Linked DNA regions of Homo sapiens. The protein of the gene in region 1 interacts with the protein of each later gene in a pairwise test. Each region holds a gene or a part of one and is shown in the gene's direction. Other genes may lie near its edges.

The links.
Region 2: the proteins of APTX (region 1) and FLAD1 interact in binary tests that used the Homo sapiens proteins (3 or more experiments, as listed by UniProt).
Region 3: the proteins of APTX (region 1) and PNMA3 interact in binary tests that used the Homo sapiens proteins (3 or more experiments, as listed by UniProt).

The regions. Positions count from the first base shown.
Region 1 is NC_000009.12:32,991,266-32,999,017, reverse strand, and holds part of APTX (aprataxin), read left to right. Parts: intron 1-1,669; exon of another isoform or gene 1,670-1,775; intron 1,776-7,752. UniProt on the Homo sapiens protein: DNA-binding protein involved in single-strand DNA break repair, double-strand DNA break repair and base excision repair.
Region 2 is NC_000001.11:154,978,226-154,986,483, forward strand, and holds the start of FLAD1 (FAD synthase), read left to right. Parts: upstream 1-5,118; 5' UTR 5,119-5,469; coding exon 5,470-5,841; intron 5,842-8,258. Other genes in the region: CKS1B (cyclin-dependent kinases regulatory subunit 1), read left to right, coding at 500-552. UniProt on the Homo sapiens protein: Catalyzes the adenylation of flavin mononucleotide (FMN) to form flavin adenine dinucleotide (FAD) coenzyme.
Region 3 is NC_000023.11:153,051,991-153,059,609, forward strand, and holds the start of PNMA3 (paraneoplastic antigen Ma3), read left to right. Parts: upstream 1-4,479; 5' UTR 4,480-4,648; intron 4,649-4,959; 5' UTR 4,960-5,065; coding exon 5,066-6,457; 3' UTR 6,458-6,491; coding exon of another isoform or gene 6,492-6,554; 3' UTR 6,555-7,619.

The DNA.
Region 1 (7,752 bases):
ATGTGCCTTTCTTACCAGTCATTTCTGCTATGGGTAGTCATTTTCCTCCTTCCCTAAAATGTTGGGTGTTTCTGTTGTTTGTGACTTTGGCATATAAACAATGAAAAACTGTTCTTTTTTTTTTTTTAGCTTGACCAATTTTTTTTTTATACTTTAAGTTCTGGGATACATGTGCAGAACGTGCATGTTTGTTACATAGGTGTATACTAAGTGCCATAGTGGTTTGCTGCACCCATCAACCTGTCATCTACATTAGGTATTTCTCCTAATGCTATCCCTCCCCTAGCCCCTCACCCCCTGACACGCCCCAGTGTGTGATGTTCCCCTCCCTCTGCCCATGTGTTCTCATTGTTCAACTCCCACTTATGAGTGAGAACATGTGGTGTTTGGTTTTCTGTTCCTGTGTTAGTTTGCTGAGAATGATGGTTTCCAGCTTCATCCATGTCCCTGCAAAGGACATGAACTCATTCTTTTTTATGGCTGTATAATATTCCATGGTATATATGTGCCACATTTTCTTTATCCAGTCTATCATTGATGGGCATTTGGGTTGGTTCCAACTCTTTGCTATTGTTAATAGTGCTGCAATAAACATACATGTGGATGTGAAGCTTGACCAGTTTTTATAAAATGATTATACCTATGTGACCACCATCCAGATTAGGTTACAGATACATAATATTACCAGCATTCAGAATGAAAACTGTTCTTTTCATTCTGTACACATTGCCTGAGTGAACCCATCAGCTGGCTTGGTTTTAACTACCTCCTACATGCCCCCAAATTGAAATTGTCAGCTTAGACCTCTCTGAGCTTTACCCTCACATCTGACTATCCTCCTGGACAGCTCTGCCTGCAAGTCCCACAGACACTTCAAATTCAGATGACTGAAACTGAACTCAGTGTCTTTCCTGGACTTAACTCTTATCACATTCATCACTAAGTCCTGATAGTTTTACCCCCTAAACATCTCTCAAATCTGTGCAGTCTTCTCCATCTCTACTGTTGTCCTTTTACCTGCAATATCATGGCCTTCTAACTGATTTCCCTGCTTCTAGGCCTGTTCCCCCATATCTTTTCTTCACATTACTCCCCTCCACCCCCAGATGGTCTTTGGAAACAAGTCTGTATCAAATTCCTGCTTAATCTTTAAAGATCTGTCCATGCATTCATCCATTCTTTTCTCTAATTCATTCAGCAAACATTCATTGTCTACTGGCTTGCAAAATCCATTGAAAGTTCTAAAGTTTGAGCTTCTCAGCCAGGGCTCTGCCTGTTCTGAACCCTGCCTGTATCTCCAGCCTCTTCTCTGCCTCATGCTTTAGGTTCCAGCAACACTGAATGGCATCTTCATGGGTACTGTGCTATTTCTTCTTTGTGTACTTGCCCTTGTTCTCTTTGCTTGGAATCTTCTCCCTGTTTCCTTTCTCCACCTCCTGCTCCTCACCTAATTAGGCTGCTCCTTTTCACCTAATTAACCCAGTTTATAAATGGGACTCAGTTATAAAGTTTAGGTCCACCTCCTCCAGGAAATTTTTTCCTGACACCTCCTTCCTCCCAATCTCGGTTGGGTACTCTAGCATTGTGCTTCCACCCTTTGCACAGAGCAATCATCATGTTTACCACATCTACTATTAACATAATTGTTTGTGTTTTTCTCCTCCACAAGATTTATTTTTTTTAGATGAGGTGTTGCTGTGTTGCCCAAGCTGGACTTGAACCCCTAGGCTCAAGCAATCCTTCCACCTCAGTCTCCCAAGTAGCAGGGACTACAGGTACGTGCCACCATGCCTGGCTAAGGCTGAGTTTTTTGAAGGCTGGGCTCATATATTATCTCTTTATTCCCAGTACTAGAATGGCACAAGATACACAGGAGTGTAGTAATTTTGACTGAACGATCAAATGAGTGAAGCCAAAAGTTATATGATGCAGTGGTTAAGAACCCATTCTTTGGAATTCAAATTGTAGTTCTGGCACATATTGGCTATGTGACTTGAACATGTTACTTATCTTCTCATCCTGAATTTTCTCTTCTCAGAATGGAGTTGTGAGTGTTAAAATGAGACCATGTAAGTAAGACATTTAGCATAGTGCCTAGCACATAGTATGCACTTGATAAAGGTGCTGAAAACCGGGGGATCCTGGAGTAAAGACTAGGCCTGGCCCAGGACAGTGATCTCCCGAAACCCCTCCTCATTGTTTTGTGAATGCGTAGGCAGTGATGCAGTCTGTTAGCAGGGAGATTATAATCTTGTTTGGAAAGTAGAATTACATCCACATTAAACAGTCAGAGAACTGTGAAGGTAGTTTGACCACATCCAATAATAAGATGTAGAGAAGAGAAGACAGCTCAATGAAGGCTTTAGGGAGGAGGTGAGGCTTGAAAGTTAAATAGGATTTGGGTTTTAGGAGAAAGGAATACCAGGAGACCATATTAAGAATGACTTAGGCCAGGTGTGGCTCCTACCTGTAATCCGTGCACTTTGGGAGGTCAAGACAGGAGGATTGCTTGAGGCCAGGAGTTTCAGACCAGTGTAGGCAACATAGTGAGAACCCCATCTCAAAATAAAATAAATTAGCAAGGCATGGTGGTGTGTGTCTGTAGTCCCAGCTACTCCAGAGGCTGAGGCTGGAGGACCACTTTAGCCCAAGGAAGTTGAGGCTGCAGTGAGCTGTGATGACGCCCTGCACCCAATCTGGGCAACAGAGTGAGACCCTGTCTCAGAAAAAAAAAAAAAAGAGCGATTTATTTGGGAGATGCTGTTCAGTATATTATACTTGAAGGGTATACATACAGGCATACCTCAGAGACGTGGGTTTGGTTCTAGACAACTGCAATAAAGTGAACATATGCATGTTTTGGTTTCTTAGTGCATATAAAAGTTATGTTTATACTATACTGTAGTCTGTTAAGTGTGCAATAGCATTATGGCTGAACAAACAATGTACACACCTTAATTAAAAGTACTTTGCTAAAAATTGCTAATAGTCACCTGAGCCTTCAGTGAGTTGTGATCTTTTTGCTGATGTAGGGGGGGTCTTGCCTTGACGTTGGTGGCTGCTGACTGATCAGGGTCATAGTTGCTGAAGGTTTGGATGTCTGTGGCAATTTCTTTTTTTTTTTTTTTTTGAGACGGAGACTCGCTCTGTCGCCCAGGCTGGAGTGCAGTGGCGCGATCTCGGTTCACTGCAAGCTCCGCCTCCCGGATTCACACCATTCTCCTGCCTCAGTCTCCAGAGTAGCTGGGACTACAGGTGCCCGCCACCACGCCCGGCTAATTTTTTTGTATTTTTAGTAGAGACTGGGTTTCACCGTGTTAGCCAGGATGGTCTCGATCTCCTGACCTCGTGATCCGCCCGCCTTGGCCTCCCAAAGTGCTGGGATTACAGGTGTGAGCCATAACACCCAGCCCTTTGTTGGCGTTTTGGTAATGTTCATTACATCTTCATCAGGAATAGATTTCATCTCAAGAGACCGTTTTCTTTGCACATCCATAAGAAGCAACTCCTCATCCATTAAAGTATGATCATGAGATTGCAGCATTTCAGTCACATCTTCAGGTTCTACTTATAATTTTAGTTCTCTTTATTTCTGCTATATTGGGAGTGACTTCCTCCATTGAAGTCTTGAACCCCTGAAAGTCATCCATAAGGGTTGGAATCAACTTTTTCCAAACTCCTGTTTATGTTAATATTTTGACCTCCTCCCATAAATTACAGATGTTCTTAAGGGCATCTAGAATGGTTGTATCCTTTTCAGAAGGTTTTCAATTTACTTTTTCCAGGTCCATCAGAAGAATCACAGTTGATAGCAGCTATACCCTTATGAAATGTATTTCTTAATTAATAACACTTGAAAGTCAGAATTACTCCTTGATCCATGGGCTGCAGAATGGATGTTGTTTTATCAAGCACGAAAACAATATTTATCTCCCTGTATAATATATCTCCATCAGGGATCTTGGGTGCATTGTCAATGAGCAGTAATATTTTGAAAGGAATCTTTTTTTTATGAGCAGTAGTTCTTAACAGAGATCTTAAAATATTCAGTCAGTCATGCTGTCGTCCAGGCTTTGTTGTTCCATTTATAGAGCACAGGCAGAGTGGACTGAGTATAATTCTTAAGGGCCTTAGGATTTCTGAAATGGTAAATGAGCGTTGGCTTCAGTTTAAAGTCTCCATCTGCATTAGTCCCTAACAAGACAGCCTGTCCTTGAAGCTTTGAAGTCAGGCATTGACTTCTCTCTACCTGTGAAAGTCCTAGATGGCATTTTCTTCCAGTAGCATCAAAGATCAAAGATCACTGATCACAGATCATTGTAACAGATATAATAATAACGAAAAAGTTTGAAATATTGTGAGAATTACTAAAATGTGACACAGAGACCTGAAGTGAGCACATGCTGTTGGAAAAATGGCACTGAAAGACTTGCTTGACACAGATTTGCCACAAACTGTCAATTTGTAAAAAATGCAATATCTTTCAAATGTAATAGAGCAGAGCACAAAGCAGGTATGCCAGTATGTATGTGTTTCTTGGGGAAGAGAGGAGAGAGAGGGATGGGCAAGTGGGACTAGTTCTGTGAAGAGGAACGGGAGGTGAAATACATAAGCACTGTGGAGTTACAGTATGATGAGCTTAACTTCAGGCCTGAGGGACTTGAGATGGATCAGGGCAGGGCAAGTTTCCAGGACTGTGGTGGATATTATGGTAGCCCCCCAGCCACGTGGAGTTATTTAACTATTAAGTAAAAAATGTAGTTTCTCTGTTGTACTAGCTACATTTTAGATGCTCGATTGTCACGTGGTGGGTAATTTATTGGACAGTTCAGGTTTAGAACATTTCCGTCATTGCAGAAAATTCTATTGGACAGCACTATTTGAGGTTACCTGATTTCTGGCCTTGTGTGGTCTATCAGATCACTTGAGTTCTTTAAGGAATAATCAGAATTTCTTTCTGACGGATCCCCTCAACTCTAGAATGAAAGATATAGAGCTGGGCCGGGCGCGGTGGCTCACGCCTGTAATCCCAGCACTTTGGGAGGCCGAGGTGGGCGGATCGCCTGACATCAGGAGTTCGAGACCAGCCTGGCCAACATGGTGAAACCCCGTCTCTATTAAAAATACAAAAAGTAGTCAGGTGTGGTAATGCACCCCTGTAATCCCAGCTGCTCAGGAGGCTGAGGCAGGAGAATTGCTTGAACCCATGAGGTGGAGTTTGCAGTGAGCTGAGATTGCGCCACTGCATTCCAGCCTGGGCAACAGCAAAACTCTGTCTCAAAAAAAAAAAAAAAAAAAGATATAGAGGTGAAAAATAGAGAATTGGGATTTATCCACCTAGATGTGAGAATGGATGGGATTGCCCAAAGAGAGGAACAGAGCATTCCATCGTAAGAAGAGCCATAGAAGGAAGGGAGAGAGAAGGCAGGAAAGAAAACTGGGATAATTATTACTCTCATGCAGAGAGTAAATAGCATTTGATAATTCACTTGTAAATATTTATTGTATGCCCGCTGTATGCCAAGTGTTAGATTAGGTGCTACAGATATATTGATAAGCGAAAATGGACATGACCTCTATTGTCATAGTTTTCAGTTTATGGAGTTTTACTGGAGGGACTGGGTTGAAGATTCAGGAACACCCATCCTTCTGCACTTGCCATATTGTAAAACACTCCATTTCTAAAAGTTGGAATTGGAGGCTGAAACGGGTGAAGTTACTATTTAAGGTTGGTTACATAACTGTTGTGCAGTCACTACTTCAGCTTCTCAGGAAGTAGTAAAAAGGAACACCATAACTTGAGAACTTTGGGGGAATAAAGTATCTGTATTGATGGAGGGCAGAAAGGGTAGTTCTTATTATCCTGCATCTGCCAGCCATGCTCTCTGCTGCTCACTGGATTCCTCTCTTGCCCTGCTCTCAAAATCTGTTCTCTTCTGGCTTCTCTTATTGTCAGTATGAGTAGTCAGTCACCACATATTTCCCAATGCCTAGTGAAGACATATTTCACTTCTCAGTCTGTTACCTGCTCATTCATCTGTTTCCAGCAAGTGCAAACAGATGCCCCTTGGAACGCATAGCATTTAAAAGTGGGACCTGCCCATAACACCATCATCATTTGAGGCTCCAGGTTTAGGATTTTAGATTTATAGCTGACTCTTCGTGCACCTGCATCAGCTCCTTCACAGAGACTTGCTGAACTGCCTTTTTGACCTCTCTGGCTCACGTTATATTAACAGCCTCCTCACTAATCTCTGACTCTGGATTTCTCCATGCTAGACTGCCTACACACAGCTGTTAAGTGTTCTTTGGATGCTGTTGTTTTATCTTACTGTGAAGCTCAAAACCTGGCAGTTGTCTCCTCTTGATTATGGTAAATGTAAACTTTTCAGCCTAGTATTCTTTCAACACCTCTGTCTTTTTTTGTGACTCTCCGAGGCAGCTCCTCTGGTTCAGCCAACTAAGTCTGCTTTTACCCCGACCTATGGCTTGCCATTGCCGAAATCTGTGTTGTCACTTGTGCTTTTTAAAATGGAATGGCCCCTCCCACTCCATTTCTTCTTTATCAGTCCCCTTGGCTCCTAGCCATCTCTAACCAGGAGGTTTCTGGAAGCCTGTACTGGCTAATACAGGACTTTTTACCTCCTTAGTACTCATATACTCGCACTAATCTTATTCATTTGAATTTGCATCTCCTCAGCTGTCATTTGCTCACTTTGCCTTGCATTGTCTTGTCTTTGCAGATGGTAATGAAACTGATTTTTAAAAATCGGGTTTCTTTTTTCTTTGCTTATGGACATGAAACTTGTGCAGAGGGCATATGTGCTGCCTTGACTATAGGCAGGTTTCCGGGAGAGGCATGTTAGAGGCTTGAGCACTGATAAGAGTCTGGAGTCTAGAGAGGCAATCTCTCTCTGCCCATAATTCCCTGTTTCACCTCATTGGGTGATCTCATCCTCTCTCTCTTTGCCTCAGCCTCTGTGACATGTTGATGCCTCTCAAATATATGCATTTAGTCCATTCCCCTCTCTTGAGCTTCATACCCACATATCACAGCTTGAGTCTTGGATCTTCCACAGGCAACTTAAAATAATTACATTTCAATATGAAATTGGTCCTTCTCTCTTCACTTTCCTTTTTATCCCCAAATTATGTCTCCTTGTGTATTTTTCATTTTTGTTAATGGGCATCTTCCAAATTTGAAGTCTTTGGTGAGTGTCTCGCCTTTTTTTTTTTTTCTTGAGATGGAGCCTTGCCCTATCGCCCAGGCTGGAATACAATGGTGCGATCTCTGCTCACTGCAACCTCCGCCTCCTGGGTTCAAGCAATTTTCCTGCCTCAGCCTCCCGAGTAGGTGGGAGGCACCTGCCACCACACCTGGCTAATTTTTGTATTTTTAGTAGAGATAGGGTTTTACCACGTTGGCTAGGCTGGTCACAAACTCCTGACCTCGTGATCCGCCTGCCTTGGGCTCCCAAAGTGCTGGGATTACAGGCCTGAGACACCGCACCTGGCCAGTGTGTCCTTTTATTCCTTTGTCATTCCCCAAATGTCATCAGTAATTAAGTATGTCTTCCAGATTTCTCCTGGCTCTTCTTGCTCTCCATCCCCTTTGCTTCGGCCATTGTTGAGGTCTCATCTCTCTTCTGAATTTCTTGTCTCTTTCTCTTTTACTGATAGTCCACATGGCCATAAGGGTTGTTTTTCAAAAGAATATCAGCACTTCCATTGTTTTGCGCGTTGCGTATTGCA
Region 2 (8,258 bases), on another chromosome or scaffold:
CCCTCCAGTCGTGGGGGATTTTTTTAAAAAAAAACTAGTGACCAAAAATAAGACTAAAATATCTGGGAAGTTCAGAGACAACCTGTCACTGAAAAACCTCCTGTAATCTTTCATTCAATCAGAGGGTATTCTTTTTAAGGCCACATATAGCCTGATCATAGCCCCTGCCTCATTCTCCATCGAAAACATTCTTGGATGTGTTCTAAATAAGCAAAGGAAAGTATATTTATTGATAAGACACCAGACACCCAGCTGCCAGGCAAAACTAATAAGGGACACCCTGGGGCTGTATAAACATAGCAAAAGAACTGATATTAACAATTCTGTACTTGGCAGACAGTCCAGACTTCTGGGTCTGCTTCTAAGGCCATATGCTTAAGTCTTTATTTAGTTATAAAGATCTGAGTGGGTGATAGCTGGGGAGGTGGTAGTGGAATACACTATAGGTTGTACATAGAATGGTGTGAGCTTGTCTCTTAGATTTCCCTCACTCTTTCAGAACCTCACATCTTGCTGTTCCGGCGCCCACTACCCAAGAAACCAAAGAAATGAAGCTGGCAAGCTACTTTTCAGCCTCAAGCTTTACACAGCTGTCCTTACTTCCTAACATCTTTCTGATAACATTATTATGTTGCCTTCTTGTTTCTCACTTTGATATTTAAAAGATGTTCAATACACTGTTTGAATGTGCTGGTAACTGCTTTGCTTCTTGAGTAGAGCCACCACCACCATAGCCCAGCCAGATGAGTGCTCTGTGGACCCACAGCCTAAGCTGAGTGTGACCCCAGAAGCCACGATGTGCTCTGTATCCAGAACACACTTGGCAGATGGAGGAAGCATCTGAGTTTGAGACCATGGCTGTTACAGGGATCATGTAAACTTGCTGTTTTTGTTTTTTCCTGCCGGGTGTTGTATGTGTGGTGACTTGCGGATTTATGTTTCAGTGTACTGGAAACTTTCCATTTTATTCAAGAAATCTGTTCATGTTAAAAGCCTTGATTAAAGAGGAAGTTTTTATAATCTAGTGCTGTAATTGTACGGGTTTTTTCCCCCTCACTCAGGGTGAGCATCATCAATATCATGGTTCTAATTATATGCCCTTCAGTTTGATAATGAAGCTCAGCTCTTTGCTGATAATGAGGTTTAACATTGAGATAACTGGTTTTTAATCTACTTTAAGCAGACTTGCTGTCAAACATCTACTGAAATATATTTCACTCTAACTACTAGCCTGAGGTAGAGGTTATATAGGGACAACTTCATCTCATCCAAACAAATGAACTGCTTCCTACAGTCGGGGTGCTGCCTTTAACATAGTCCCAATATTTGAATGGCACACATGGATAAAAGGATGCTGTCAGTCAGGGGCTGCTTGTGTGTCCCAATTCCTAATAGGAATAATAGGCATATCTATGACCTATTCACTGTGCCCCTTGGTTGGGGAAGGTTTTCAGCTGTTCTTAACTTGGCTTGGGCGTTGGAATCACCTGGGGAGCTTTACAAGTACTGATGCCTGCCTGAGTCATTCTTAAGGATTCTTAATTGGTCTGGAGTGTGGACTGGGGGTAAAGATTTCAGGCATCTTATGCAGGTAGGTAAAGAACTAAGCTTTGAGAAAACAGGTGCAAAATGTAGCTGTTTAAGAAAACATTCCAGGCCACACGTGGTGGCTCACACCTGTAATCCCAGCATTTTGGGAGGCTAAGGAGGGCAGATCACTTGAGGTCAGGAGTTCGAGACCAGCCTGGCCAACATGGTGAAACTCCCGTCTCTATTAAAAATACAAAAATTAGGCTGGGTGCAGTGGCTCATGCCTGTAATCCCAGCACTTTGGGAGGCTGAGGTGGGTGGATCACCTGAGGTCAGAAGTTTGAAACCAGCCTGGCCAACATGGTGAAACCCCATCTCTACTAAAACAAAATTAGCCGGGCGTGGTGGCACACGCCTGTAATCCCAGCTACTCCGGAGGCTGAGGCAGGAGAATCACTTGAACCTGGGAGGCAGAGGTTGCAGTGAGCTGAGATCACGCTATTGCACTTCAGCTTGGGCAACAAGAGTGAAACTCTGTCTCAAAAAAATAAAAATAAATTAGCCGGGCGTGGTGTGTGCCTGTAATCCCTGCTACTCAGGAGGCTGAGGTGAGAGGATCGCTTGAACCCGAGAGGCAGAGGTGAAAGTGAGCCAAGATCACACCACTGCACTCAGCCTGGGCGACAGAAGCTGTGTCTCAATTTAAAAAAAAAACATTCCACAGAATAATAACTTCCCCTCTAGTCTAACAAAACAGTAGTACTAAGTGGCCGGGCGTCGTGGCTCACGCCTGTAATCACAGCACTTTGGGAGGCCGAGGCTGGCGGATCATGAGGTCAGGAGATCGAGACCATCCTGGCTAACATGGTGAAACCCTGTCTCTACTAAAAATACAAAAAAATTAGCTGGGCAAGGCGGTGGGCGCCTGTAGTCCCAGCTACTCGGGAGGCTAAGGCAGGAGAATGGCGTGAACTCGGGAGGCGGAGCTTGCAGTGAGCCGAGATTGCGCCACTGCACTCCAGCCTAGGCGACAGAGCCAGACTCCGCCTCAAAAAAAAAAGAAAAAAAAATACTAGTACTAAGTAAGGATATTAATCTCCCCCATTTTTCCTGTCTTCCATCCACTTATTCCTAAAATAGCAGGCATCAACATCGGGAAAATTCATTAGAAATGCAAATTATTGGGCAACAACCTAGACCTACTGAATCCTAAACTCAGGATTGGGCACAGCAATGTTTTAACAAGCTCTCCAGCTGATTCTGATGTACACTTAAGCTTGAGAATCCACTAGGAAAATACTGGAACAGTCTTGGTATTCTGTTTTGGGAGGGGATCAAATATCACCTGTATTGCTAATAAAGATATTGGAACATGTGGTTTACTAGGCAAGTGGAATTCTTGTTTTGCCCTTTTTTTTTTTTTCAAAGAGCTGACTTTTTATAATTGAAAGAAATGAGGGCCAAGTACGGGGGCTCACACCTGTAATCCCAATACTTTGGGAGGCCAAGGCAGGGAATCACTTGAGCCCAGGAGTTCAAGACCAGCCTGCGCAACATGACCAAACTCCGTCTCTACTAAAAATACAAAAATTAGCCAGGCATGGTGGGGCGCCCCTGTGGTCCCAGTTACTCTGGAGTCTGAGATGGGAGGATCACTTGAGCCCAGGAGGTCGAGGCTGCAGTGAACGGTGCTTGCGCCACTGCACTCGAGCCTGGGCAACAGAGAGACCCTGGTTCAAAAAAAAAAAAGGGAGGGGGGGCTTATTACTTAAAAGAATGGTCTAGACACCTGATCACCTGGGTCCACCATTCACTGTGTTTTGTGGTTGTGTGGCATCCCTTCACCTTTCTGAGCCTGTTCCTCATCTGTAAAATGAGCATGATGTGTATCTTACAGGGTATTTTTTTTCTTTTTGATGGAGCCTCGTTCTGTCGCCCAGGCTGGAGTGCAGTGACACAATCTCGGCTCACTGCAAGCTGCGCCTCCCGGGTTCACGCCATTCTCCTGCCTCAGCCTCCTGAGTAGCTGGGACTACAGGCTCCCGCCACCACGCCCGGCTAATTTTTTGTGTTTTTAGTAGAGACGGGGTTTCTCCATGTTGATCAGGCTGGTCTCCAGCTCCTGACCTCAGGTGATCCGCCCGCCTCGGCCTCCCAAAGTGCTGGGATTACAGGCGTGAGTCACCGCGCCCGGCCTTTTTTTCTTTTTTTCAATTGAGAGAACTCAAGCAATCCTCCCTCCTCAGACTCCCAAAGTGCTGCGCCCGACCAAGGGTTTTGAAGAGTAAAATTTGGCAAGGTGTGGTTTACCAGTCCTACAAAGAATGAATTCGGCCCGGCGCGGTGGCTCACGCCTGTAATCACAGCACTTTGGGAGGCCGAGGCGGGCGGATCACGAGGTCAGGAGATCGAGACCATGCTGGCTAACACAGTGAAACCCCGTCTCTACTAAAAAAAAAATGAAAATAAAAAAATTTTTAAAAAAAAGCCGGGCATGGTGGCGGGCGCCTGTAGTCCCAGCTACTCGGGAGGCTGAGGCAGGAGAATGGCGTGAACCCGGGAGGCGGAGCTTGCAGTGAGCCGAGATCGCGCCACTGCACTCCAGCCTGGGTGACAGAGGGAGACTCCGTCTCAAAAAAACAAAGAATGAATTCGGGCCCTTACCATTCAAAATGTAGTCCATAGAGCAGTGGGATCACCATCACATGGGAACTAGCTAAATGCAGATCTCAGGCCCCACCCAAACCTACTGAATCAATCTGCATATGAAAAGATCCCCAGATTATTGTTGGAAAAAAGTTTAAGATGTACTTTTAGAACAAAGGCAACTGAAATGGGGGTAAGCTCGGATGATGTGAGGATCCAGAGTAAACATGTAAGGCACTCCCTATTCGCTGCCTCATTTGCACCTACAAGACCAATTACTGGGAAAGGTCATTTGAACTAAGCACCATCTGGAGCAAGGTGGAGGAAGAGAGGGTTTTTGGACTCTTTCTTGTCAAAGAGATTTAAGTAATTCGTTTTGTCTACTATACTAGAGATAAATTAAGGTTCCACACATCAAAAGCTCACCTACTCCAGGGTCTTCATATCCGACAGACAGTGGTAATAATCTTTCTCGGTGTCCCTCCAACTTCCTTCTGCTATAAATAAGATGCTTTCTCACTCCAGTAAAAGCCCTTAGCCTAGTGTTAGAGTCACGGTGAATGAAAACAGCTTAAACCATGGCTAACTGACCCATTAAACAAAACAAAACAAAGCAACACATGCATAACAATTATTTGAATCCAGCACCAGAAACTCCCCGAGGGCCTTACAGCACCTTTAACTACGGCTCCTTTCCCGCCCTAAACTCCCGAGGTCCCGCCCCCGACCGTGGGCTAAGGTCCGGCCCCCGTATTTCCGGGCGAGAAGTGACCACGTGGTTGTCGCCTATAACAATCCGGCCCTGCTCCCATCCACTGGCTAAAGCCTGAGAGCGACAGTTGAATACACCAATGGGACCCTGGAAGAGTCTAAGCGACAGCCAAAATCACCATTCAATGTCAGCTAGGTGCAAGGCGGGACTTTAAGTACGGAAGCTGCCCCGGGACATGAGGAAAGGAACAAGGGAAAGAGCCGGTGAAGGGGCAGAACAGGCAGGTGAGAGTCTAAGAGGGCTCAGTAATCTGAAGCTTGGTGGGAAGAAGGGATTCTGGGCTAGAAAGGGTGCAGAAGCCTGAAGTAGAAAGAGACGGGATTTTGGTCCGGGGTGGAGAGCGAATGCATTGAAAAGGGCCAAGGCCCAGGATAAGGTAGACATTTAAAGGGGTACGGATGCCCAAGGTAGAGCAGACACTTGAGGAGACCAGCTCAGCAAACGGAAGACACTTAAAGTGGTAGGTTCTCAAGAGAGAAGAAGTTTTTAAGACTAGAGCTAAGCAAGACATTTAAAAGGACATGGGTTGGGATTTGGGAACACGTTTATTCCAGAGGCAGGAACAAAGGAGTCGCTTGTCAAGGATCTGGTTAGAGAAGACTAGGGTCTTCCTCGAAGGAAGCACGCGCACGCCTGCTCTCCCCCATTGTCTTTTCTGGCTTCTCCAGGTTCCCTCGACCCAGGACCCCCTGTTCCCAGGCTATGGCCCCCAGTGCCCTGTAGACCTGGCAGGCCCCCCGTGCTTGCGACCCCTATTTGGGGGTCTGGGTGGCTACTGGAGGGCCTTGCAGAGGGGCAGAGAAGGCAGGACCATGACATCTAGGGCCTCTGAACTTTCTCCGGGGCGCAGCGTGACGGCTGGCATCATCATTGTTGGAGATGAGATCCTTAAGGTGTGTCTGGGACAGAAAAGGGGGGAGGGCGCTGCGTTCTCCTGTCCTTAAGGGCCTGCTGCACATCCCTCCATGGAAGGAGGTGAAACAGGGTGGGAGCCTCTTTGCTGCAGTAGGATCCTGGAGTGAATCCAGCATATTGGAGGAAAATTAACCCTCATTCTTTCAATTACTCTACTGAAAAACTTGTAGCAAAGTCCCTACAATTTTTCAACCTGAGAGAGCTGATTGAAAAAAAGAAAAATAAAAAGGTCATTGCAATTTACCAAGCAGTATGGTAGAGGGCAGAGGAGCTACACAACAATGACAGGAAGCCCCTCGAGTAGAGGAGGTACAGGTGTGTGTATTGTATATTTAAGAGTTTTGGCCGGGTGCGGTGGCTCACGCATGTAATCCCAGCACTTTGGGAGGCCGAGGCGGGTGGATCACGAGTTCAGGAGTTCGAGACCAGCCTCAACATGGAGAAACCCCATCTCTACTAAAAATACAAAATTAGCCAGGCGTGGTGGTGCATGCCTGTAATCCCAGCTACTTGGCAGGCTGAGGCAGGAGAATTGCTTGAACGTGGGAGGCGGAGGTTGCAGTGAGCTGAGATCGTGCCATTGCACTCCAGCCTGGGCAACAAGAGCGAAACTCCGTCTCAAAAAAAAAAAAAAAAAAAAGAGTTTTACCCAGCCTTTTTGGAAATGACTCAAGGTACTCAGCGTAGTGGATAAGTGAGCTAGAAGGAAGGTACTAGAAGGGATGAATCCCCTCCGAATGATCAGGAAAGTCTTACTAGAGGACATAACAGATGACACGGGTTTTTTTGTTTTTGAGACAAGATTTTGCTCTGTCACCTAGGCTGGAGTGCAGTGGCACAGTCACAGCTCACTGAAGCCTCCATCTTCCAGGCTCAAGCAGTCCTCCTGCCTCAGCATCTGGAGTTGCTGTGACTACAGGTGTTAGCCGCCACACCTGGCTAATTTTTTTTTTTTTTTTTTTTTTTTTTTTTTTTTCAGAAACGGTCTCACTATGTTGCCCAGGCTGGTCTCAAACTCCTGGGCTCAAGCAATCCTCCCACACCTTGCTGGGATTATAGGCATGAACCACTGAGCTTGGCCAAATGTCAAGTTTTAATAATAATCTTTTTTAATATTCTTTGTAAATTTGTGTTTTTTTTGTTTTTTTTGTTTTTTTTTTTTAGATAGTCTCACTCTGTTGCCCAGGCTGGAGTGCATTGGTGGGATCTCAGCTGACTGCACCTCCACCTCTCGCGTTCAAGCAGTTCTCATGCCTCAGCCACCCGAGTAGTTGGGATTACAGGCATGAGCCACTGCACTCAGCCTTAATAGACCCTTTTTTTTTTTTTAGACAGAGTCTTGTTCTGTTGCCCAGGTTGGAGTGCAGTGGCGTGATCAATTTTGGCTCACTGCAACCTCCACCTCCCAGGTTCAAGCAATTCTCCTGTCTCAGCCTCCCAAGTGGCTGGGACTACAGGCATGTGCCACCACACCTGGCTAATTTTTGTATTTTTAGTAGGGACGGATGGGGTTTCGCCATGTTGGCCAGGCTGGTCTCGAACTCCTGACCTCAAGTGATCCACCCACCTCAGCCTCCCAAAATGTTGGGATTACAGGCGTGAGCCACCTCACCTGGCCCTGACCCCAATTTTTTTTTTTTTTTTTTTTTTTTTTGAGACAGAGTTTCACTTTTGTTGCCCAGGCTGGAGTGCAATGGCTCGATCTTGGCTCACCGTAACCTCCGCCTCCTGGGTTCAAGCGACTCTCCTGCCTCAGCTTCCCGAGTAGCTGGGATTACAAGCATGGGCCACCACGCCCGGTTAATTTTTGTATTTTTAGTAGAGACGGGGTTTCTCCATGTTGGTCAGGCTGGTCTCGAACTCCTGACCTCAGGTGATCCACCCGCTTCAGCCTCCCAAAGTGCTGGGAGGCATGAGCCACTGCGCCCGGCTGTGTGTGTGTGTGTGTGTGTGTGTGTGTGTGTGTGTGACGGAGTTTCGCTCCTGCTGCTCACGCTGGAGCGCAAATGGCGCAATCTCAGCTCACTGCAACCTCTGCCTCCTAGGTTCAGGCAATTATCTCACCTCAGTCTCCCGAGTAGCTGAGATTACAGGCACCCGCCACCACGCCTGGCTAATTTTTGTGGGGTTTTTGTTTGTTTGTTTTGAGACGGAGTCTCGCTCTGTCACCCAGGCTGGAGTGCAGTGGCGCGGTCTCGGCTCACTGCAAGCTCCGCCTCCCGGGTTCACGCCATTCTCCTGCCTCAGCCTCCCGAGTAGCTGGGACTACAGGCGCCCGCCACCACGACTGGCTAATTTTTTGTATTTTTAGTAGAGACAGAGTTTCACCATTTTGGCCAGGCTGGTGACCCCTATATTTTAAGTGCCTACTAGAGTCTGGTAGTGTCCTATACAT
Region 3 (7,619 bases), on another chromosome or scaffold:
CTTTCCCCCCAAACAACAATGAAGTGCTCTGCGTGCTAACAGCATAGCTTAAAAAAAGTAAAACAAAATTATGAATTTTTATAAAACTCGATAAAAAATAGTATTTCAAACTCTTCAGTCACCAGAAGTACAGTTATCAAAAATGCAGACACTTCACGTGGCATCTCCAGGACCTTCAGCTTTCTGTGCCTGGTCTGTTTTGTCATCTCCATTTTCTGCAGGGTTATTCCCCTCCCTGCCAGCATTAGCATTTACCCTTTTCCCTATGGGTACCTTCACTCACTTTTTTGCAGGGGCCTCTTTAGGCTTAGACTCTGGCTTTGGAGAAGCAGGTTTAGCAGACAACCTCTTGGATCTTTTCTGTGGTTTGTCCTTCATGTTGGATTTATCTCCTTTAGCATCCCCTTCAGCCTTTCTCTTGGGGATGGTGGTGATAGTGGCGGGACATAGGCTCTGGGGGAGGGATGCAGTGGTGCACGGGCTTTGGCCACTCTGGGGAGTCGTTCTTGTCTCTTTACTTCCAGATTCTTTTTTTTATTTTTTTATTTTTTTTATCTTATAAGTAATTCCTTTGCTCTCCTCTGGCTCTCATGTATCCTCATTATTAAATAGTTATGCCATCTAGTCCAGATTCCATTTCAGAAACCTTTCAGCATTTTTACCATTCGAAGATTTGCAGTTTAATCTTTTTATTAGTTTTCTAGAGTGACTGTACCAAAGTACCACACTAGGTGGCTAAAGCAATAGAAATGGAATGTCTCACATTTCTGGAGTCCAGAAGACCATCAAAGTATTGTCAGTGTTGGTTCCTTCTGAGAGTGGTGGGGGAGAATCTGCTCAGAGACCTTTCTCCTAGCTTCTGGGGCTTTACTGCCAATCTTTGGCATTCACTGGTTTGTGGAAGCATCACCCCAATCTCTGCCTTCATCTTCACATGGTGTTCTCCCTGAGCATCTTCATGTTTCTGTGTTCAAATTTCCTTGCTATAAGGACACTTGTCACATTGGATTAGGGGCCCACACCACTCCAGCTTGATTTCATGTTAACTAAGTACATCTACAATGACCCTATTTTCAAATAAGGTCACATTCTGAGGTGCTAAGGATTAGGACTTCACCATATGAATTGAGGTATGGGGAGACATAATTCAACCCATAACAGTCTTAAATTAAGAGGTGTAATTTCTGTCCATTTGTGTATTTTCCCAGAGAAATTTCTTAAAGTCCAAATAAAAAACTTAATTGGTCCAATAATGATGATTCAGAGGAGCTATTGTTATCTGAGCTTCTATAAAAATTAGCGTGCTTTGGGCTGCAAGTACCAAAAGTGTGACTCAATGCCAGCCATATGAATGAACCATCTTGGGTGCCCAGCCCTGTTGAGTCTTTAGACTTGATTCTCAACTCATATCTCAATGCAACCACATGAGAGATCCCATGAGTGAACTGCCCAGCTAAACCTTCTCTCAATTTCTCACTTACAAAATTGTGAGCAGAATAAAATGGTTGTTTTAAGCCAGTATGTTTTGGGTAGCTGGTTGTGCAGGAATAGTAACTTAATGGGAAGAAATATCCAAAGTAAATAAATAACTCCTATGAAAGAATTAAAAAAGAGAAGCACCCCAGTTGAGAATTGAGACAAAAATAGGAATTTCAATCAAGAGGAATAAAAAATGCCCCCCCAACCAAGGTATTAAATCTAATTCATAATCATAGAAATTCTACATAAAAGCATAATAACAATTGACATTCCTCAGGATTAACAACATTTAAGTCACACAATATGAAATGTTAGTGATGATATGGAGCTTGATGGAAACATAAATTTGTACAGCAACCCAGAAGACAATTTGGCAATGTCTCTGAATACTAAAGATAGTCTTTGATTCAGCAATGCCATGGCTAGGTACATAACTTAGAGGAACTCTCCAAGAATATTTAAAGCAGCATTGTTTCTGATAGTAAAAATGGGAAACAACTTAAATATCTGTCAATGGGAAAATTGATAAATTTTGGTACACACACACACACAATGGAATACTATACAGAAGTGAAAATTGAGGAATAAAATTTGCTTATATCAAAATGGTGATTCTCACAAACAATAATTAGTTAATACAGTGATGACTATGAATAGTATGATATCATTTCTGCCAAGTGTAAAAGAGACAAAGACAATTTTTTAGGGATATAGTCATTTGCAGAAAAAGCACGAAGAAATGCACATGGAGGACAAGAGTGGGAGACAACAGGGAAGGAATCTGCAGGCGCTTACCCTCACTGGCAGTGTTTTATGTCTTCATCCAGTTACTACATTCAGGAGTACTGGATGTACTTTTTAAGTACGTTTTGTATGTTAAATATTGCAGAATGTATTTTATAAAGTATTTAATTACCAGAAACTCTTTAAAAAATTCCCAGGCCTGTTTCAGACTCAGCAGATCAGATTGCAGAGGTGGGGCCCATGAATCTGCCCCTTTTGTGACCCCGATAGTCACTACTGGTCTAAGCCAGGGCAAGGCCACCCCGGTGGAGGTTGCTTCCTTCATGCTGTATTATGTTTTTCACTTTACAAGTAATAATGTTTATCCATCAGTTCCCCAACTTTGGTGCTGCTGTGTTATCTACCATGCAAGGAGATGGGGAAGCAAAAGTAATTAAGACATTTCCACTGGTTTCAAGGGCAAAGGTTAACTCCAATATAAAGGAGTTCTAAAACTTTTCAAATTGGACATATTCACATCTATTGTCTTGATACCAGTGTTTCCAAATCCTTTTTTCCCAATGCCCAGAACATCCACAGATCACTGCGTCTGTCTGGGAACTTCACAGGCTTCTTTCCGGAGACATTCCAGACACGCCCCTCTGCCTTGGCATGAATACTTGGCATCTCCCCTTGACATCTCAAGCTTTGTCATTTACTCACTGTGTGACCTTGGGCCAGTAGTGTCCCTTCTCTGAACCTCTGTTTCCACCCCTGCAAGTTGGGCAGATGAAGGTTCAGTTTGAAGCTGGTTGAGCCCTTGGAGTGACAAAGCAAGGGACTGTGAATGGACAAAAATGAGAGAAATAAATTCTAATAGGCATGAAGCAACCAGGGGAGAAATAGTCCCAATTCTACCCAAAGACTGATGGGCACTAATTTAGAATCCAGTCTCAATTCTACCTTCAATACGGTGTGTGACCTTGAAAATGTCTCTTAATCTCTCTGAGCCTCATGAGTCAAATCAGGATAATGTTAATACCTGCTTCAGAGTTCTGGTGAGGAGCAAATGAAATAACTCCTGTAAAGATGTTTCAGGAATTCTGTCTGACCAGGAAAAAGCCCTTGGGGCCATTTCTTCTTGGTCCCTGACAAGTGCCAGGCTGACGAGCAGAACTCAGGGTGGGGCAGGAAGTCAGTGGACAGTTTTGTGCCCCACTCACTGCAAGGTGGCCTCCCAGACTTGGCTGGATGGGTGAACCTGGCCTGAAAATCAACCACAAGCCCCTTTTCGTTGTGTTTGGAGAGGAGCTGAAGCTGTGTGAATAGGAGTTGAGCATGCGGCTGGCAGAGCAGGCAGGACCCACAGAACACCTGGGCCCACTGCCTGAGGGACAGTCACTCCCTTCTTCATTTGGCTGCTGCCCTGGGATCAAACGGATACAATAGAACCCACGGCGCACGGCTGCCAAGGAAGGGCAGGCCCAAGGGATTGGGCTCCAAGTCCTGGAAGTGGTTTCCCAAGTCACTAGATTTGCAGCGCACAAAACCGGAAAGGTCCCGGTAAACCTGTCCACTGGCACCTGGGCAGCGAAGCGCTTTGGCCGGAGGGCCTCAGGTCCCAGCAGCGGGATGGACAGCGGGGAGATGGCTGACCCTCCTTGGGGTGGTGTGCGTGACCTGCATGAGTGCCTGGGGCATCTCCTGCACGGAATGGCACCCGCACCAGGTGCCCCTGGCCTCGCCAGCCAGAGGACCAGTCCTGGACGGGGAGGGGGAGGACAAGAGCAGGTGAACAGGCCCCAGAACCCGGCTCCCTGACCCTGGCCATAATGCAGAGCTGCCTGGCGCACCTCAGACCACTCCCTGGCCCTCTGGTGGGCACGCCGGGGTGCAGACCCCTCGCCCCGCTGGCACCTCCGTGGCACGTGCGGGAGGGGCAGGAGCCGGGACCAGGAACCGCTGTGGTGAGAGCCAAAGGCACGGGGACTGGCCGCCACAGACCTTTGGCCACCGCAGTGGGGATGGGGGTGGGCGGGCGCTTGTGTGCCCGGGGGCCCGGGGGCCCCCGTGGCGGGGGGGCTAGGGGAGAGGAGCAGGTGACGTCACCCGGGGACCTGGGGCCCCCAGGGGCGGCGGCGAGAGCCCGACCTCGTGACCCGTCCGCGCCAATGGCCCTGCGGTCTCCCGGACGACGCGGAGGGGTCCGCGCTGCACCGCCGCCGCGCCCCCGCCCCGTGTCCGCACTGCAGAGAGCCGCGGCGAGCAGGCGCCGGCGCACTGGCCCACGTGCTGCGCGAGCGAGGGAGAGCCACAGTCTGAGCGAACGTCCGCGCTGGGAGCCAGGGGTGCCCGACCCCCGTCCGCCGCCGCCGCCGCCGCCGCGCATAGCCCCCGGAGAGCCCTCTGGGGACCCCGACCAGAAGGGACCTTGCCCTGGGAGAAGGTAACAGACCCACCTGGGGAGGGAGACGCTGGGCCCCGGGAGACTCCGCCGCCCCTCGCCTGTCCGCCCTATCAGAACTGAAGCAGCCTGCAGGGCAGGGGTCCAGGGTCCTGGGGCAGCGCGGGGAGGGGGCTGAGGCCCGCAGAGACCCCACGGGGGGTGGGGGTGGGGGGCTGGGCAGGGGCGGGGCCTGGCTGCAGAGGCGCCGCCCGGGGAGGAGGGCGGCTGGGGGTGGGGGTGGGGGTGGGCGTGGATGTGGGCGTGCGGAGAGGTGGGCATTAACCTCGCTCTCGCCCTGCTCGCATTCACAGGCTGTGGAGACCTGGGCCTTCTGCGATCACCCTAGGAGTTGATCCAGATATGTGCCTCACGCCCTGATCACTCCCCCCAAATTAGTATCCGCAGAGATTCGAGGACATGCCGTTGACCTTGTTACAGGACTGGTGTCGGGGGGAACACCTGAACACCCGGAGGTGCATGCTCATCCTGGGGATCCCCGAGGACTGTGGCGAGGATGAGTTTGAGGAGACACTCCAGGAGGCTTGCAGGCACCTGGGCAGATACAGGGTGATTGGCAGGATGTTTAGGAGGGAGGAGAACGCCCAGGCGATTCTACTGGAGCTGGCACAAGATATCGACTATGCTTTGCTCCCAAGGGAAATACCAGGAAAGGGGGGGCCCTGGGAAGTGATTGTAAAACCCCGTAACTCAGATGGGGAATTTCTCAACAGACTGAACCGCTTCTTAGAGGAGGAGAGGCGGACCGTGTCAGATATGAACCGAGTCCTCGGGTCGGACACCAATTGTTCGGCTCCAAGAGTGACTATATCACCAGAGTTCTGGACCTGGGCCCAGACTCTGGGGGCAGCAGTGCAGCCTCTGCTAGAACAAATGTTGTACCGAGAACTAAGAGTGTTTTCTGGGAACACCATATCCATCCCAGGTGCACTGGCCTTTGATGCCTGGCTTGAGCACACCACTGAGATGCTACAGATGTGGCAGGTGCCCGAGGGGGAAAAGAGGCGGAGGCTGATGGAATGCTTACGGGGCCCTGCTCTCCAGGTGGTCAGTGGGCTCCGGGCCAGCAATGCTTCCATAACTGTGGAGGAGTGCCTGGCTGCCTTGCAGCAGGTGTTCGGACCTGTGGAGAGCCATAAAATTGCCCAGGTGAAGTTGTGTAAAGCCTATCAGGAGGCAGGAGAGAAAGTATCTAGCTTTGTGTTACGTTTGGAACCCCTGCTCCAAAGAGCTGTAGAAAACAATGTGGTATCACGTAGAAACGTGAATCAGACTCGCCTGAAACGAGTCTTAAGTGGGGCCACCCTTCCTGACAAACTCCGAGATAAGCTTAAGCTGATGAAACAGCGAAGGAAGCCTCCTGGTTTCCTGGCCCTGGTGAAGCTCCTGCGTGAGGAGGAGGAATGGGAGGCCACTTTAGGTCCAGATAGGGAGAGTCTGGAGGGGCTGGAAGTAGCCCCAAGGCCACCTGCCAGGATCACTGGGGTTGGGGCAGTACCTCTCCCTGCCTCTGGCAACAGTTTTGATGCGAGGCCTTCCCAGGGCTACCGGCGCCGGAGGGGCAGAGGCCAACACCGAAGGGGTGGTGTGGCAAGGGCTGGCTCTCGAGGCTCAAGAAAACGGAAACGCCACACATTCTGCTATAGCTGTGGGGAAGACGGCCACATCAGGGTACAGTGCATCAACCCCTCCAACCTGCTCTTGGTAAAGCAGAAGAAACAGGCTGCAGTTGAGTCGGGAAACGGGAACTGGGCTTGGGACAAGAGCCATCCCAAGTCCAAGGCCAAGTAGGCTCGGGAGAACAGGGCAACATTTCCTACCACAGGCCAAGGAGACAAAAGAGATATTGGAAGGAGGGGAAAGAGAAGCCCAGACAAACAGCAGATGAGTTGAGTGGGGCAGAGGGACAGGGCAGCCAGACCAAGGCCAAGCCTTCTCACCCTTGGCCAGCTGGAAGGGACTTCAGCAACCAAGACCACCTGGCAACAGGCTCAGTGGGGGTCAGGTCCAGGTCCCCGAAGAGGTGCTGGAGAGGAAAGCAGGGAGCCACTGCATCCAGCACATGGGGTGCCTGGGCCTCAGATGGGGACCCCAAAGAAGCAGAAGCTGAAGAAGGTACGGCTGGGGGTTCTGTCCTGCTCATCCAACCACCCCTAAATACCCACCCTGTGGACTTTGAGCTGAACATGCCCACTGGCCCCCAGGCCACATGGGACCTGGAGGAGCCTACCTGGGGCCTGCCCCTGCCAGCAGGTGCCAGGGCTGGTGAGGAAGAGCTGGGGGGCAGAGGTAAAGCCCTGCAGGGGAGGCCACAGGGTCCATCCCGTCTTCAGGATCATCTACACTGCACTAGGGGAGCCCCAGGAAGGCAGCACCCTGGAGGCCCTGTGCCAGTGAGGACAGGAGACCCTAAGGCCCCGGGAGCCCAGTGCCAGCCAGAGGTTGTGCAGGCAAGGAGACCAAAGATTGATGAGAAGACCCCCAGCAGGGGTACTGGGTACCCGGCAGGCCAGTGCCCTCACAGTTGACTTGGACCAGGGTGGCTGTGAAGGGAAGTCTTTGTTGCAAAGGAGGAGGAAAAGGGAGGACTTGGTAGGGTTTTGTTTCTTCTGCTTGTTTCTGTACAGGGCCACCAGACTCCTGGAGAGATCAAGCAAGGAGAACCTGGGGCTGCCATGGCCAAAGCAACTCAACAGATGCCAATGCCAATTCCAAGGCCAGCCACAACCCTGCCACCTTGGGGAATCCAGCCTGGAGGCATCCCCTAAGCAGCCAGCCATGGCCTGGGTGGAGGCACCTGAAGACGTCTGTCCCAAACTCCCCCAGCCCTGAGCTGGGAGATGACAGGGGGAAAGAGGCCCTCTCAAGGGTGCCAGATGCCTGGGTCTCCCAAGAGGGGTCCCCCAACTCACTGTTCCCGGGACAGGCTGCCCCCTGTTCCAGGAAGCTCATC